Regions from separate parts of the Homo sapiens genome. Here region 1 is linked to region 2. The links come from fine-mapping of genetic effects on gene expression. A gene starts in region 2. The other region holds a variant in brackets. All regions are shown on one strand. Distances are from middle to middle. Region 1 has its middle 100 kb from the start of SLC4A7. Region 2 holds the start of SLC4A7 (solute carrier family 4 member 7).

What was found. PIP is the estimated chance that this variant, and not a neighbour inherited with it, causes the effect.
Region 1: its variant is the best candidate, but not a certain one, in a credible set for the expression of SLC4A7 in whole blood (TOPMed, PIP 0.84).

Annotation. Positions count from the first base shown.
Region 1 is chr3:27,584,271-27,592,950 of GRCh38, reverse strand. No RefSeq gene overlaps it. Among named protein-coding and RNA genes, the nearest start is that of SLC4A7, 100 kb to the right of the region's middle. The variant C/T (reference allele first, on the strand shown) is at 3,252.
Region 2 is chr3:27,480,121-27,488,691 of GRCh38, reverse strand. SLC4A7 (solute carrier family 4 member 7) reads left to right here and starts at 4,308. Exons shown (of 26, transcript NM_001321103.2): 1 at 4,308-4,625. The coding sequence starts at 4,566. It also overlaps the pseudogene UBA52P4. RefSeq lists enhancers at 3,650-3,779, 4,258-5,034, 5,050-5,109, 5,140-5,349, 5,510-5,569 and silencers at 3,910-4,389, 4,420-4,779, 4,810-4,879.

The DNA of each region.
Region 1 (8,680 bases), 100 kb before region 2:
AGTATTTCATTATTTCTTTTTTTTTTTTTTTTTTTTTTTGAGGTGGAGTCTTGCTCTTGTTGCCCAGGCTGGAGTGCAATTGCACAATCTCAGCTCACTGCAACCTCCGCCTACTAGGTTCAAGCAATTCTCCTGCCTCAGCCTCCCAAGTAGCTGAGATTACAGGCATTCACCACCATGCCTGGCTAATTTTTGTATTTTTATTAGAGATGGGGTTTCACCATGTTGTCCAGGCTGGTCTTGAACTCCTGACCTCGTGATCTGCCTGCCTCGGCCTCCCAAAGTGCTGGGATTGCAGGCGTGAGCCACTGTGCCTGGCTCTTTTTTATTTTCTTATTTTCTTTTGAGACAGAATTTCACTCTTGTCACCTAGGCTGGAGTACAATGGCGTGATCTCAGCTCTCTGCAACCTCTGCCTCCCAGGGTTCAAGTGATTCTTCTTCCTCAGCATCTCAAGTAGCTGGGATTACAGGCGTGCACCACCATGCCCAGCTAAATTTTTTTTGTATTTTTAGTAGAGATGGGGTTTCGCCATGTTGGCCAGGTTAGTCTCAAACTCCTGACCTCAAGTGATTTGCCCACCTTGGCCTCCAAAAGTGCTGGGATTACAGGTGTGAGCCACCACGCCCAGCCAGGTGTGGATTTTCAAAAACAGCAAAATCTGTGGGAATCTAGTATTTCTCTCTAGATGAAGTAATGTCATTGAATATAATTTAAGTTGTAGTGTAATTAAAGATGGTATAAATGGCTCTATTCTTCCCATGCTGACATTTTATCCCAAGCCCTTTCTTCGGGCATCATTGGTCAATGATTTATGGGTTTTCCATGGCTTCCATATCTTGTCTATCACCAACTGGTTTCTGAGACATGAGTGGTTTACCCCGGAAGTGATTATTCAAATTCTGTGGCTGCTGGGCTTTGTTCTTACATCTAATGTATTCAGCTAGATTCTGCTCCAGGAAGAGATAACAAAAATTACTGAAACAATTTGTAAGATGCAGCCAGCTGCATATTGACCTTCAACTCCCACGAGTGTCCCTGCCAAAATGATACAGTTACTTAATTTCCAGAGTCAAAATTATCAATAAAGCCCAAAGGCTTTCTCTCAATAGACAATGGGTATGTGTTTCGGTGTTTGGGTGTGGATGTGTGTTTGTGTGTCACAAAGAGAGAGACTTTCACTCAAAAGACAAGGTATGTGTGCATGAGTACATGTGTATTAGAGAAAGAAAGAGAGAAAGAGAGCAATGAAGACAGAGCACAGCTTTGTTAGAATGGTGAGGGGAGACCCAATGTTAGTTTGCTTCCAGGACTTGATGGAGATTATTGGTTTTTCTTTGAAAGCCCATTCCTCAGCCTAGGTAAAAGCTTTTCCTAGTAGACCGTGATTCATTAACATCCTGTCCTTCTGGGGAGGAAAAGACACGAAAATTTAAGGCAAGATTCCAGGCTGGAAAAGAGCTGTTGTTGAGACAAAGCTTTGATGGAAGGTGAAAGCAGGCCTGGAACCATGTGTGTCATAGTGATTATTTTTTATGGCTCAACGTCAAAATGCCTCTGCTACTTGTTAGTTTGGGGTTTGGTGGGACAGAAAAGAGGAAGGCTATGAGGAGAGTAAGGAACAAAGAGGGAGAGTTTGCAGAAAAATTTTTAGAGCAATTGAAGCTTGATAATACTGGATGTGTCCTGCCTTTTCTGTTGTTGCTTTCATTTGTTGAAGCATTTCATAAGTAGATCACATGTTCACAATAGAAAAGTGAATCTATTATGCAAAATGTCCCAGTTGGAAACTCGTAAGTTCTGAAGGGAAAATACTCTTTTTCAGCTTAATTCCCACTGGCAAAATTTCATACAAACAGACTGCTGTGTGACTGTTTGGAACTGTTGACTAAACCAAGCTCTAAGGGAAATGAAAGTATCCTTTCGTCTGTGCACAACCACTTCTTTATTTTTCCCTTTGCCATTTACCAACTTAATGCATCTGTGTTGACAGCTAAAGACTGATGATTAAATTAGACAACAGTTCCTATTACATTTTAAGATTATGTTAAACACTTGAACATATTGCAATTCTCTAAGGCTGAAATGACTCCTGTAATCTTTCATCAAGATTTATAATCACTATTTCCTTCACTGACAGTATCAAAAAGCTACAGTGGTCAGGGAATGTTCCAGCCACATTGGCAAGAGGATATGATTATATTCTCCAGTGGAAGTTGTAACTTCCGGTTGCCTTTTTCCCTGTGAAAACAATGATTTCCGGTTACCTTCAAGGGTACTGTGACTTTATGACACATCACTTCAGAAAACCAGCTCTGTGGTTGTTGAAGGTGACCCAGGAGAGATGATGAATTTCTCTTTCTTTGGAAATCAGATTTTTCTCTCCTCGAAGACAGAAGAGGAAGTAACATTCTAGGCCAGCACCCATTATTGTGCAAGAAGACTTGGATTTTATCAAAAGTGATGATTAATTGAATTTACATCTCTCAGCATGCACCTCCCACTCCAGGACTGATTTTTGTTTTTCTTTACAGAAAATTTATTTCTCCTTCTTCAACCTTGCATTGTGCATATAGCCATTGAAAACAAAACAGTCACCAGTGTTTTCCATGAAGGCTTTTGCTGAAAAAGAAATCAGCCTCTTCACACTTTTATGTTATCAACAGAGAAGAAAAGAGATGAGAAAGCCAGAAAGATGAATAGCATTCCTATCTTTCTCATTCTTGCTTTTCTTCTCCTGTTAGTGTTCATTCTTTGGCTCTTCTGTTTTTACTTTTTGCTGCATTTATATCTTCTTTTTTGTTTTCTATCCCTTTACTTTGCTTTCCCTTCCCAACCCACACACCTCCTTTGCTCAGGAGGAAATCTCCTCTCCTGGGAGGAGCAAAGAGATAGAATAGAGAAAAAGCATGCAGTAACAGCAATGGAATTCTAATGTTCTCACTCATATGTGGGAGCTAAAAAGTTGAGCTCACAGAAATAGAGTAGAATTGTGGTTACTATGGGCTAGGAAGGGTGGGGGATGGGAGATAGAGATTGGATACGGAATACAAAAGGACAGATAGATAGGAAGAGTAAGCTCTAGTGCTCTATAGAACTATAGGGTGACAATAGTTAACAATAACTTATTGTATATTTTCAAATAGCTAAAAGAGAAGATTTTGCATGTTTCTCTTTTTTTGACATAGAGCTTCGTTCTGTCGCTGGGATTACCAGCATGAGGTATGGCACCCTGTGGATTTTGAATGTTT[C/T]CAAAACAAAGAAATGATAAATGTTTTGAAGTAATAGATACACTAATGAACCTGATTTAATCATTACACATTGTATACAGATATCAAAATGTCACGTCGTACCTATAAATATGTACATTATTCCATGTTAATTAAAAATAAAATAAAGCCAGGCACAGCGACTCATGCCTGTAATCCCAGAACTTTGGGAGGCCGAGGCGGGCGGATCACTTAAGGTCAGGAGTTTGAGACAGGCCTGGCTAACATGGCAAAGCTCTATCTCTACTCAAAATACAAAAATTAGCTGGACTTGGTGGTGGTATGCACCTGTAGTCCCAGCTACTAGGGAGGCTGAGGTGGGAGGATCAGTTTAGCCCAGGAGGAAGAAGTTGCAGTGAGCCGAGATCGAGCCACTACACTCCAGCCTGTGTGACAAAGTGAGACTCTGTCTCAAAAAAATAAAATAAAATAAAGCATTTTGCCCACTTACAAAAATGGATTGTTTTAATCCAAATTATGTATTCTGAGTATAAATGTGTATTCTAGATATAAATATATCTAGATATAAATCTTTTATCAGATTACCCTTTCTTCCATTCTATGGGTTATATTTTCTTTTCTTTTTTTTTTTTTTCCACCCAGGCTGGAGTGCAGTGGCCCAATCTCAGCTCACTGCAACCTCTGCCTCCCAGGTTCAGGTGATTCTCCTGCCTCAGCCTCCCGAGTAGCTGGGATGGCAGCCACCCGCCAACACTCCTGGCCAATTTTTGTATCTTTAGTAGAGACGGCATTTCACCATGTTGGCCGGGCTGGTCTTGAACTCCTGACCTCAAGTGGTCTGCCTGCCTCGGCCTCCCAAAGTGCTGGGATTACAGGTGTGAGCCACCATGCCTGGCTGATTTTCTTTATTTTAAGAGTGTCTTTCAAAAAGGAGAAGTTTACCGGTGTGGCAGCTCACATCTGTAATCCCAGCACTTTGGGAGGCCAAGGCACGCAGATCACCTGAGGCCAGGAGTTTGAGACCTGCCTGGCCAATATGGTGAAACCCCATCTCTACTAAAAATACAAAAATTAGCTGGGCGTGATGGCGCACGTCTGTAATCCCAGCTATTCGGGAGGCTGTGGCAGAAGAATCACTTGAGCCTGGGAGGCAGAACCTGCAGTGAGCAGAGATTGTGCCATTGCACTCCAGCCTGGGTGACAGAGCGAGACTCTGTCTCAAAAAAAAAAAAAAGGAGTTTATAATTTTCATTAAGTCTATTTAATCTGTTTGTTCTTTGAGGAATTATGCTTTTTAGTATTGTATAATATCTAATAAATTTCTGCTTAACCCAAGATCACAAAGATTTTCTACCATATTTTCTTTTAGAAGATTAATCACTTTAGATAATATATTTAAGTCTGTAATAATTGTTTTTTTTTTTTTTGAGACAAAGTCTCGCTCTGTTGCCCATGCTGGAGTACAGTGGCACAATCTCAGCTCACTGCAACTTTCGCCTCCCGGGTTCAAGTGATTGTCCTGCCTCAGCCTCCCAAGTAGCTAGGATGATAGGTGCCCACCACCACGCCTGGCTATTATTTTTTTTTTTTTTTTGTAGAGATGGAGTTTCACCATGTTGGCCAGGCTGGGATAATACATATTTAGATCATTATTTTCATATGGTGCAAGAATGGATTGACATTCTTTCTGTTGCGTATGAATTTCTAATTGTTCTAGCACCATTTGTTAAAAAGACTATTTGTCCACTGAATTGCATTTGTGCCTTTGTCAAAAACAGTTGTCAGGACTGGGCGTGGTGGCTTATGCCTGTAATCCCAGCATTTTGGGAGGCCGAGGCAGGCGGATCACCTGAGGTCAGGAGTTCAAGACCAACCTGGCCAACATGATGAAACCCCGTCTCTACCAAAAATACAAAAAATTAGCCAGGCGTGGTGGCTCACGCCTGTAAACTCAGCTACTCTGGAGGCTGAGGCAGGAGAATCGCTTCAACCTCAGAGGCAGAGGTTGCAGTGAGCTGAGATTACACCACTGGACTACAGCCTGGGTAACAAAGCAAGACTTCATCTCAAAACAAAACAAAACAAAAATAAACAAACAGTTATCAGGCCAGGAGCAGTGGTTCATGTCTGTAATCCTAGCTTTTGGGGGGCTAAGGTGGGTGGATTACTGGAGCCCAGGAGTTAGAGACCCCCTGGTCAACATGGTGAAAACCCATCTCTACAAAAATACAAAAAAAAAAAAAAAATAGCTGGACATGGTGGCATGTGCCTGTAGCCCCACCTGCACAGGAGGCTGAGGTGGGAGGATTGCTTTGAGCCTAGACAGTTAAGGCTGCAGTGAGCCATGTACACACCACTGCACTCTATCCAGGGTTCTCAAAAAACAAACAAAAAAACTAAACAAATAAAAACTAGTTGTCAATATAAATATGTGGGTCTCTTTCTGGATTCATTTCTATTTCATTGACTTGTCTGTTTTTTGGTTTTGGGGGGTATTTTTGTTTTGTTTTGTTTTGTTTTGTTTTGTTTTGCTTTTTTTGAGACGAAGTCTTACTCTGTCGCCCAGGCTGGAGTACAGTGGTGCAATCTCGGCTCACTGTAACCTCCGCCTCCCAGGTTCAAGTGATTCTCCTGCCTCAGCCTCCTTAGTAGCTGGCATTACAGGTACACACCACCACATGGCTAATTTTTGTATTTTTAGTAGAAATGGGGTTTCACTATGTTGGCCAGGTTGGTCTCGATCTCCTGACCTCGTGATCCACCCTCCTCGGCCTCCCAAAGTGCTGGGATTAGAGGCGTAAGCCACCACGCCAGGCCAACTTGTCTGCTTTTTTATACCATTAACACATTGTCCTGCTTACTAGAGCTTTATAATGAATATTAAAATCAGGAAAAAAAAAAAAAAAAGAACAGAACAACGAGGCAATGTCCTGGTGGTTCAGTTGGGCTGATTTGCACTATCTTAAACATATATCCAGAATTTGATGGCTTACTACTCACACTGCTACTGTTGTAGTTTAAACAACAGGAATTTGAGTCCAATCTCTCTCCCCTACTGCAACACCCTGTTGCACTGGTCCCCACATCTACAAAAAAAGAAAAAAGAAAAAAACAACTAAAAAAAAAATAAAAATAAACCACTACCATCCTGGCACGGTGGCTCACGCCTGTAATCCCAGCACTTTGGGAGGCCGAGGCGGGCAGATCACCTGAGGTCAGGAGGTCGAGACCAGCCTGGCCAACATGATAAGACCCAGTCTCTACTAAAAATGTGTGGTGGTGGGCACCTGTAATCCCAGCTACTTGGGAGGCCGAGGCAGGAGAATCACTTGAACCCAGGAGGCGGAGGTTCCATTGAGCTATCATGCCACAGTACTCCAGCCTGGATGACAGAGCAAGACACTATCTCAAAAAAAAAAAAAAAAAAAAAGGCTGGGCACAGTGGCTCACGCCTGTAATCCCAGCACTTTGGGAGGCTGAGGCGGGCAGATCACGAGGTCAGGGGTTCAAGACCAGCCTGATCAACATGGTGAAACCCCGTCTCTACTAAAAATACAAAAATTAGCTGGACATGGTGGCACGTGCCTATAATCTCAGCTACTCAGGAGGCTGAGGCAGGAGAATCACTTGAACCCAGGAGGCAGAGGCTGCAGTGAGCCGAGATCACACCACTGCACTCCAGCCTGGGCAACAGAGCGAGACTCCATCTCAAAAAAAAAAAAAAAAAAAAAGATTTATGTCTGTCTACCAGACTGAAATGTAGAATATAGGGATTTGTCTCTATCCCCAACATCTAAAACAGTGCCTAGCACATTTGGCACTATATGTGGGCTGAGTAAATGAAATTCATAACACCAGCACTATATGTAGCCTTTGGCCACACTCTCTTCCTGGGACATTTGTGTGTTATAAGGCCACACATCCTATGGTAGAAAGCCATATTGGAATGCTGATGACTTGACCAGGAGCCAGTTACTTTCTCCTCAGTGACAGATCTATAAGCCTGCAAATCCGGCTGCTTTCTTTTCCTTAGCTTACTGGTTAGAAAGAGCCTGTTCAGTCACGTACTTGGCTTACACATTTTCCAACCAGAACAGTGTGCACTTGCCCTTTTCCTGAGTTCTAGTGCCAGGGACTGTACCTGCTGGTTGCATTTTGAGTTCTTATTCATAGTCATGATTCTGCCCCACCTAAGTACTTTTATGCCCGGGCAGTCTTGGGACTTGCAGGTCACTCCCTTGGCTTCTTTCAAACTGGTCAAGTGGAGGAGGAAAGCTATAGCCTTTCCCAACATGACTTAGTGGACTAACCCATCATTGCTCAGACCTTCACAGAATCTTAGAGTATTAGAGTGGGGAAGACTTAAATCTTGGAGTACACTGATATTCAATTTTTTTTTTTTTAAACCGCAGCAATACCTTTTCTTTAAACCAGCACTCTACTGAAAGCCCAACATGTCGAACAAATGGAATTGGAGCTTCTCTGTTTGAAACAGAGACAGGGACCAGAGTCTGCTTGGTTTGACGCAGCCTCTTCCTAGGGGATTCCCTGAGGAAATTTGCAAAGCCAATTGTTTTTACAGGAAACAGTGTGGAGATCCCAGGTGCCATCCAATGCCATTGCTTTGTAGATAAGAAAAGCAAAGTTCAAAGGGATAAAGGTATTTTCCCAAAGTTATACAGAAAGCAGCTGTCCTGGAATGAGAATTCCAGTCTCTTACTTCCCAGTTTGTACCCCTCTCCTCACCATATACACCATGTTCTGCCAGCAGCCTACCACCCATTAAGAACTTACTGCATGCCAAGCATCATGCAAGGTGTTTTACATTCACAATTTCATTTATTCCTGACATCTACCTTTTGTGGTACATACCATTAATTTTGTTTTTCAAAAGAGAGACGAGGCTGGGCATGGTGGCTCATGTCTGTAATTCCAGCACTTTGGAGGCCAAGGTGGACGAATCACCTGAGGTCAGGAGTTCAAGACCAGCCTAACCAACATGGTGAAACCACATCTCTACTAAAAATACAAAAATTAGCCGGGCATGGTGGCACGTGCCTGTAATCCCAGCTACTCGGGAGGCTGTGGCAGGAGAATTGCTTGAACCCAGGAGGCAGAGGTTGCAGTGAGCTGAGATCCCGCCACTGTACTCCAGCCTAGGTGACAAAAGTGAAACTCCATCTCAAAAAAGAAAAAAAAGAGAGAGAGAGAGAGACTAGGCCTGGCGCGGTAGATCATGCCTGTAATCCCAGCTACTCGGGAGGCTGAGGCAGGAGAATCACTTGAACCCAAGAGGCAGAGGTTGCAGTGAGCTGAGATCCAGCCACTGCACTCCAGCCTGGGTGACAAGAGTGAAACTCCTTCTTAAAAAAGAAAAAAAGAAAAAAAAAAAAAAAAGAGCAACTAGGCCCGGCATGGTGGATCATGCCTGTAATCCCAGCACCTTGCGA
Region 2 (8,571 bases):
ACTTTGGGAGGCTGAGGTGGGCAGATCACCTGATGTTGTCAGGAGTTTGAGACCAGCCTGACCAACATGGAGAAACCCCGTCTCTACTAAAAAATACAAAATTAGCCAGGCATGGTGGTACGTGCCTGTAATCCTAGCTACTTGGGAGGTTGAGGCAGGAGGATTGCTTGAACCAGGGAGGCAGAGGTTGCAGTGAGCCGAGATTGCACCATTGCACTCCAGCCTGGACAGCAAGAGTGAAACTCCGCCTCAAAAAAAAAAAAAAAAGAATGGTTTCACACTTTTCAAAATACCAAAGAAGCTGCTCTCTGTCTTTATAAACTATACCTTGGCCTATAGAGAATTGTTCTTGGGAAGACCGTTCACTCCTCAGGATGGGGATCTTGCCAAGGGGTTTTTAGGATTATCTACTGCTCCAGATACTCAGGAAGTATTCTGAATTTAGGATACAGCTAAAACTCATTAACTTTAGGTACTACCACTTCATTGCTACTGATGAATTTAGGTTTACATTTACCTTTGTTTAGCAAATGTTTCCCTGTGCCATATTTCAAATTAATTTTTTTTTTTTGAAACGGAGTCTGGACCTGTGCCCCAGGCTGGGGTGCAATGGCGTGATCTTGGCTCACTGCAACCTTGGCCTCCGGGGTTCAAACAATTCTCCTGTCTCAGCCTCCTGAGTAGCTGTGACTATAGGTGCCTGCCACCATGCCCAGCTAATTTTTGTATTTTTAGTAGATATAGGGTTTCACCGTGTTGGCCAGGCTGGTCTCAAACTCCTGACCTCAGGTGATCCACTTGCCTTGGCCTCCCAAAGTGTTGGGATTACAAGCATGAGCCACTGCACCTGGCCCCAGATGAATATTTAAAATATTCAAGAATACAATTTACCTTTCAGCACCTTGGAACACTTTATAGCCATCTCTGGTTGCACAAAAGCAATTTTAACACATTATCTTCTTGAATGAACTTTGGCTGAGGTTGAATTAAGTGGGCAACTGAGTGATAAATTTAATAATTCAGATCTTTGCTACATTCCTCTTCTAGCAGTTGGGATGAAATGAGGAGTGGAAAAAGTGCATGGCAACAAAGACGTCACTAAAAAAATATTTGTGGATTAAATAAACCAATAATTTTTTCTTCTTGCAAGATAGATGAACAGAAATTCATTGTTTAGCAAGGTCTGCCAAGCATACATTTTTAAGACCTTCTTGAAGCTGACTATTTAACACTTTCAACTCTGGCACCATGATTCTTGACTCCTACTTTGTTCTTGTTACTATGGCCACATGCTCAGCTGTCACCTAAGATGCTCTTAGATCTTAAGAAGAGCAGATGTATGCCCCACCTGTACATTTACTCATTTAACACATGTGCTGAGAGTTTACAGGGGCCAAACACTCACGTAGGCATAGGGATATCTGAGAAAAAACCAAAAACCAAAAACCAAATTTGCTGTACACATGAAGCTTACATGGAGCTCACATTTGTGCGTGTGTGTGTGTGTGTGTGTGTGTAGACAATAAGCATAATAAATCATAAAATATATAGAATGTTATAGCCAGATGCGGTGGCTCACACCTGTAATCTCAGCACTTTGGGAGGCCGAGGCAGGTGGATCACTGGAGGTCAGGAGTTCTAGACCAGCCTGGCCAACATGGTGAAACCCCATCTCTACTAAAAATACAAAAAATTAGCTAGGTGTGGTGGCGGGCGCCTGTAATCCCAGCTACTCTGGAGGCTGAGGCAGGAGAATTGCTTGAACCTGGAGGATGGAGGTTGCAGTGAGCCGAGATTGTGCCACTGTACTCCAGCCTGGGCAACAGAGTGAGACTCCATCTCAAAAATAAATAAATAAAAAAGAATGGTGCCAATAGTAAGAGCAGTTCCACTCACCAGAACTCAAAACCAGTATTTCTATGGGCTTCAGCTTCCTCATCTGTAAAATGGAGCTATAACATATTTTGTAGTATTGTTTTTTTGTTTGTTTGTTTTTGCTGCTCCAGTCAACGAAAGAGACACACTTTATTGAGGCTCCAGGGAGGCTGCCGTTCGAGGAAGGAAGAGCCTTGACCTTCTTGGGTTACAGGTTGTTGGTGTGGTCACACCTCTTGCAGCAGTTGACAGCACGGGGGTGCAGGCAAGCATAGCACTTGCGGCAGATCATCTTGTCACAGTTGTATTTCTGGGAGAGCTGGCAGAGGGAAGGCTCAATAATGCCACCTTACAGGCGCAGCACCAGGTGCAGGGTGGACTCTTTCCAGATGTTGCAGTCTGAGAGAGTTCGGCCATCCTCCAGCTGTTTGCCAGCAAGTATCAGATGCTGCTGGTCAGGTGGGATACCTCCTTGTCTTGAATTTTGGCTTTGACATTCTCAATGGTGTCACTTGGCTTGACGTCAAGAGTGATGGTCTTGCCCGTGAGGGTCTTCACAAAGATCTGCGTCTCTGCGTCTGCAGCTCAGTTGCCTTGCCGAAGAAAAAGATGACGGCAGATATTTTGCAGTATTGAGAGGATTAGAAATGAAATATGTTTGCCAAATGTCACAGTCTCTAATTGTAGGCCTCTTTACATAGTAGCTATTAATAGAGGCACATCTGCTCTTGTACAAGTAAGTGAACAATGTGTGCTGGACTGGAAGTAACTCTCTGGGAAATTTAGGACAAAAGGGGACTAGGGCCCAAAGAAGGAATGAGTCATCCAGCATACCTAGCTACCTATTGCTGACAAAAAGCTTTACTAATACCCAGTTGGAGATGAATAGGATGTGAGCTCTGGATCCGCTGATGTATTTATATATCCTTCCATTGCATGGCTTCAGTTCTTCCCAACTAAACCTCTCCTTATCTTTTTTTATTTTATTTTTTATTTTTTTGAGACAGGGTCTAGCTCTGTCACCCAGGCTGGAGTGCAGTGGCGTGATCTCAGCTCACTGCAACCTCTGCCTCCTGGGTTCAAGCGATTCTCCTGCCTCAGCCTCCTGAGTAGCTGGGATTACAGGTGCCTGCCACCATGCCTGGCTAATTTTTGTATTTTTAGTAGACACGGGGTTTCGTCATGTTGGTCAGGCTGGTCTCGAACTCCTGATCTCAGGTGATCCGCCCGCCTCGGCCTCCCAAACTGCTGTAATTACAGGCGTAAGCCACCGCGCCCGGCCAAATTTCTCATCTTTATGAAACACTCAAGAGAAACCTGTTAACAATAATGAAAATTATCAGCATGCTATGTGCCAGGCACTTTTATGAATATAAATCCCCTTAATCCTTCAATGAGCCTGCATGGCAGGTATTACAATCATCCCGTTACAGAAGGGATATTTGAGAGACGGCCTACAGGGTGGACTCAATAATGTGGCAGCTGGCCGGGTGTGGTGGCTCATGCCTGTAATCCCAGCACTTTGGGAGGCTGAGGCTGGTGGATCACCTTAGCTCAGGAGTTCGAGACCAGCCTAACCAACATGGTGAAACCCCGTCTCTACTAAAAATACAAAAAGTTGCCGGGCGTGGTGGCGCGCGTCTGTAGTCCCAGCTACTCAGGAGGCTGAGGCAGGAGAATAGCTTGAACCCAGGCAGCGGAGGTTGCAGTGAGCCGAGATCATGCCATTGCACTCCAACCTGGGCTGGTGCAAGACTCTGTCTCAAAAAAAAAAAAAAAAAAAAAAAAAGTGGCAGCTGTCGTGGTGCTCAGTGGGCGAGCAAGCACAGGAGGACACCTGGTCAAGTGTACCCCATCTTTCACGGTCCCTGAGTTGGGGTTCGTGCCTACTGGATTGACAGAAAAGAAACTTCCAGGAGTCGTGAAGACTCGTTAGTTGCTTCGGAGGGTTATCCTGGGCGTCCTTGACAGAGGTGGCGTCCTCCTTCCCTGCAGCCTCTAAAGAATGTAGTTAGGAGCCAAGGGAGGTGGTGACCCCCCACCCCATTGAGAACGTCAGGGGAGCTTCCGACTTGAAAAACTAGTTAGACGCTCAGCTTCGGTCAATTAAGCTTATACAAAGAGGGGCGGTGCGTCCTGAGGAGGTGGCACGGGGGAGGCGAGCGGAAGTCCGCCAGCCGCCGATTGGCTGGGACAAATGTCCGTCCCGCCTCCCTCCCGCCCCATCTCCCGGTGGCCTAGCGGCGCGGCCCGCGGGCGCGCTGAGGAGGCTGGCGGTGCCAGACTGGCAGGGGGCGTGACCCGAGGAGGCGGGGCGGGGGGGCGTGTCTTGCCTGGCCCCGGCGCCGGGCTCGTCACGGTTTGCGGCTCCGCCCCCGAACCCCTCCTCCTACGCGGCTCTCCTCCTTCCCGCTCGGTCCGCCGGTTCGCTCAGTTCTAGCTTCAGGTTCCACGCCGCGGCCTCGCTCTCCTACTAAAGCCAGCCCAGCAGTCGCAGCGCGCACACGCACGCCCCGCGTCTCCCGCGCCCGGCGCCCGGCTCTCCCCACGCGCGCACACCTCGCGCACGGACGCACCCACGTTTGTCCTCGCGCGCCGGGGGCTCGGCGGCGGCGGCAGGGGCAGCGGCAGAAGCAGGCAGACCGCGCGGGGCAGTACCGTAGCGGCCGTCACGGGCTGGCCGGCCGGCCATGGAGGCTGATGGGGCCGGCGAGCAGATGAGACCGCTACTCACCCGGGTAACGAGCAGGGTGAGGGCGCCGCGGCGGTGGGGCTCCTCCGCAGGGGGAGGGCGCGGGGCGAGGCAGACAAAGGCGGGGGGCGCGGCGGGCGTCGCGGCTCGGCCACCTCGTCCCAGGCCCGTCGCCCCTCCACCTCCCGGCGGCCGGCGCGCCTCGCCATCCCCTTTGTGTGGCGGCCTGGGGCGCGGGTGGGAGGGGGCCAGCGGCTGCGCTCGGGAGGCCCGAGTCGGGGCGGCCGGCGGCGCGCCGCGGGCATCCTCTGCGCGGCTCAGGCGGGACCCCGACATCCCCGCAGAGGCCGCCTGTGACCCCGACCATCCATCCCTTCCCTCAGCGCTCGCCTCCCCTGTTTCTTAGCGCGCTCCCCAGGCGGGGTCCCGGTTCCGGTTGCCTTGGCGCAGGAGTTTCAGATTAGCCCTCGAAAACCTATCTTTCTTCTCCTTCTAAGGAGGACGGCGGCTCCACCTGTCTCTAGCCCCAGGCAGTGGTGAAGAGCTGGTTGAATCTTTCCCCCTCTTTCCGAGTGTCCCCTCCCGCTCCGCGGTGCGCTTTGTTCGGTGAGTTCTCCGGCCGCGTGGACTGGCCGCGCTCCTTCCCGGCCAAGGCTCTTTCGCTGTTGCCTGCCGGGTCCGCCTTCTCCACTGGCTGGGACCCGGGGAGTATCCTCCTGCCGCAGGCCAAGTAGAAGGAGGAGGGTGTCCTGAGCTGTCTGGTGCTCCTTCTCTAACTCAGCTAGCAAGATCGCGTTTCCTACTGAGACTGGCTTTGATTTCAGGGTTAGAAGAGAATGGGGATGGACTTAAGGCCGGTGTTCCCATTTGTGATGATGGGTGAACGGCCCATGCTCAAGAAGCGGACTTCCTGCTTTCTTTAGAGCACATGCGTCCCCGCAGTTGTCTCTTTCTCCTTTCCAAGTTCGTGACTCAAAGGAGATGGAAGTATTCTAAATTTTCCTACTTCTAATTTTTACTATGCAACCAGCAAAGGCGGGAAGGTTGCAGGGAAAATTGTCCGGTCTTTCACAACTAAGAGGAAAATTACTTCTCCTATGTTTTTATTCAAGAGTTGTCTTTAAAACTGCCTGCCGGCTTTCCCTTTTAACTTTTAGGATTATAGTTAAGGTTATGGAAAGTAGTCATTCATTAGTTCAGTACGTTCATATAAGTTCTCTAACATAGAAGAAAACTCAGTCACCAGACAGTGAAGTCATTTAGCAGTGGTTATTGGAAGATAATTCACAGTGATGGTAATGGAATACTGGAAACTCATCCTAAATAATCTGTAATTATTATTATTATTATTTTGAGACAGAGTCTCGCTCTGTCGCCCAGGCTGGAATGCAGTGGTGCGATCTCGGCTCACTGCAACCTCCTCCTCCCAGGTTCAACCGATTCTCCCGCCTCAGCCTCCGGAGTAGCAGGAATTACAGGCACGCACCACTATGCCCAGCTAATTTTTTGTATTTTTAGTAGAGACGGGGTTTTGCCATGTTGTCCAGGCTGGTCTGGAACTCCTGACCTCAGGCAATCCACCCGCCTCGGCCTCCCAAAGTGCTAGGATTACAGGCGTGAGCCACCGCGCCTGGCCTTCTGTAATTCTTTGTGTAGCCTTTGAATAAACTGTTTTATAGTACTTTCTCTGTGTATTTCAAGTATGATGTTGTCTGTTCTTAAATTTATTTGCAAATTTTCAATTGAGCAGTAAAGTGCATTCGAGTTTTCACGGAGCTGGATAGAAACTATGGTGTGTTCTCAAATATTGCCTGCCTAGCTAGTAGAGAAAGCATGTGATAAGGCCATTGCCCTCCAAGTTATTCATTCATTCATTGTAATAACACTTATTTAGACTAGTGTTTATGCTATTTAAACTATTATTTACACTATTTACTGTAGTGGCCAACAAGGCAGAACCAACTCCATCCTAATATTTATTTATTTATTTTTGAGACGGAGTTTCGCTCTGTCACCCAGGCTGGAGCGCAATGGCCTGATCTCGCCTCACTGCAACCTCTGCCTCCTGGGTTCAAGTGATTCTTCGGCCTCAGCCTCCCGAGTAGCTGGGATTACAGGCATGTGCCACCATACTCGGCTAATTTTGTATTTTTAGTAGAGATGGGATTTCACTGTTGGTTAGGCTGGTCTCGAACTCCTGACCTCAGGTGATCCACCCACCTCGGCCTCACAGAGTGCTGGGATTACAGGTGTAAGCCATGGCACCCTACCCAACTCTATCCTAATAGAAGTGATATTTGAGTTGGGAGACAGATGACAAAGGAATTATTAAACACTGCTGTTAATGACGTGGTAGGGGAGCACTTTAGAAGGGTAAACCTCCTAAGTCTTTGAGAAGATAAGGCTTGGCTACTGTTAACATATATAAATCAATAATAGAAATCAAATACAGTAAACTAGCATATAGTCTACGAATAGAATGGGAGAATAGTAAAGCTGTAGGTTGAACTGATTTGAAAACAGGAAAGAGGAACTATTGGCGTTGATAAAATTAAATCTTCGCTCACCCAGTTTTGGTAAATAAAAGTCGTAAAAGTGAGAGATCATGATATTCATCAGTCATAACTCTAACTCGCAGCAGACTGCTCAGCATAGCCAAAAAAGTAGAACAAATTAATATTCATAAAATCCCATCTTAGATTTGTAATTATGCAAAAAAATGTTGAATAGATTGGTGGCAGTTTATATTACTCTGAAATTGGAGCCCATCTGTTTCATAGTTTAGCCTCTATGGTTGCTTCTGCTCCTAAAATTCTCTAATTTTCACTGATCAGGGTGTTGGGATAGAGGAAAGTCATTAATCTTGAAAAAATGTAACTTGTCTTTTGCTTTTGCTATAAAGCCTCATAATTGTAAGCCTCACTTGGAATTGATTTGTGAGTCTTTTTTTGTTGTTGTTGTCAGTCTTATTTTCCAGTATAGGTTAAATCCTTTTATAAATAGCATGGTTTAGAAGGTTTCTAAGTTTTAGCAGGTAATCTACTTTCTTTTAAGCAGTGCATGATATAACACAATTCTGATACCACTGACATTTTGGGACCATGATATTTTTCCATGATTTTGTTATGATTTTATTCATTTTGCACATATTTATTAAATATCCTATAGGTGCCAGGTAATGGGGATATAGTCAAACAAGGTAGACAGCATACTGCCTTCGCTGAGTTTATTTTGGCGTATGGTGTGAACACAGTGATGGCATTTACATTTCTGCTTTCCATTTGTGAGTGCCAGTTAAAACATTTCATCAGTCTGTAAGAAATTAAAAAAAAATAGTCATTAGAATAAATGACAGACCCGGACAACCCAGTATGAATTCGGTAGTGATTGGCAAATGGAAGTTTTTTTTTGTGGGTCTGTAAGTAGGCATTCTGTTTGGGGAATCACAGTTACGTATTGATACTAGGTATTGATGTGGCACCCTAGGAATAGTATCAGGGTTTCAGTTACCCTTTTGCCTTATTCTAAGTATCTCTGGGCCGCAATCCATGGAGTTGTAATAAAGGGAGAGAGCAAATCTGAAACTGTAGGACAAGGCTAGGTGCTGTGGCTTATGCCTGTAACCCCTGTACTTTGGGAGGCTGAAGTGGGAGGATCACTTGAGCCTAGGGGGTTTGAGACCAGCCTGGGCAACATAATGGGACCCTGTCTCTACAAAACATAATTACCCATATGTGTTGGTGCTAGCCTGTAGTCCCAGCTACTTGGGAGGCCGAGGCAGGAGGATCACTTGAGCCTGGGAGGTTGAGGCTGCAGTGAGCTGTGATTATGCCATTGCACTGCAGCCTGGGTGACAGAGTGAAGCCCTGCCTCAATACAAGATGAAACAAAGCTGTAGGACATTTGAGTTAGATTGATGAATTGTTTTGCCTGGTAATTGAGACTGGGAAGTACACAGGTTTTCTTCTAAGAGCTTAGAGAATTTTGTTACATTAGACTCTTGT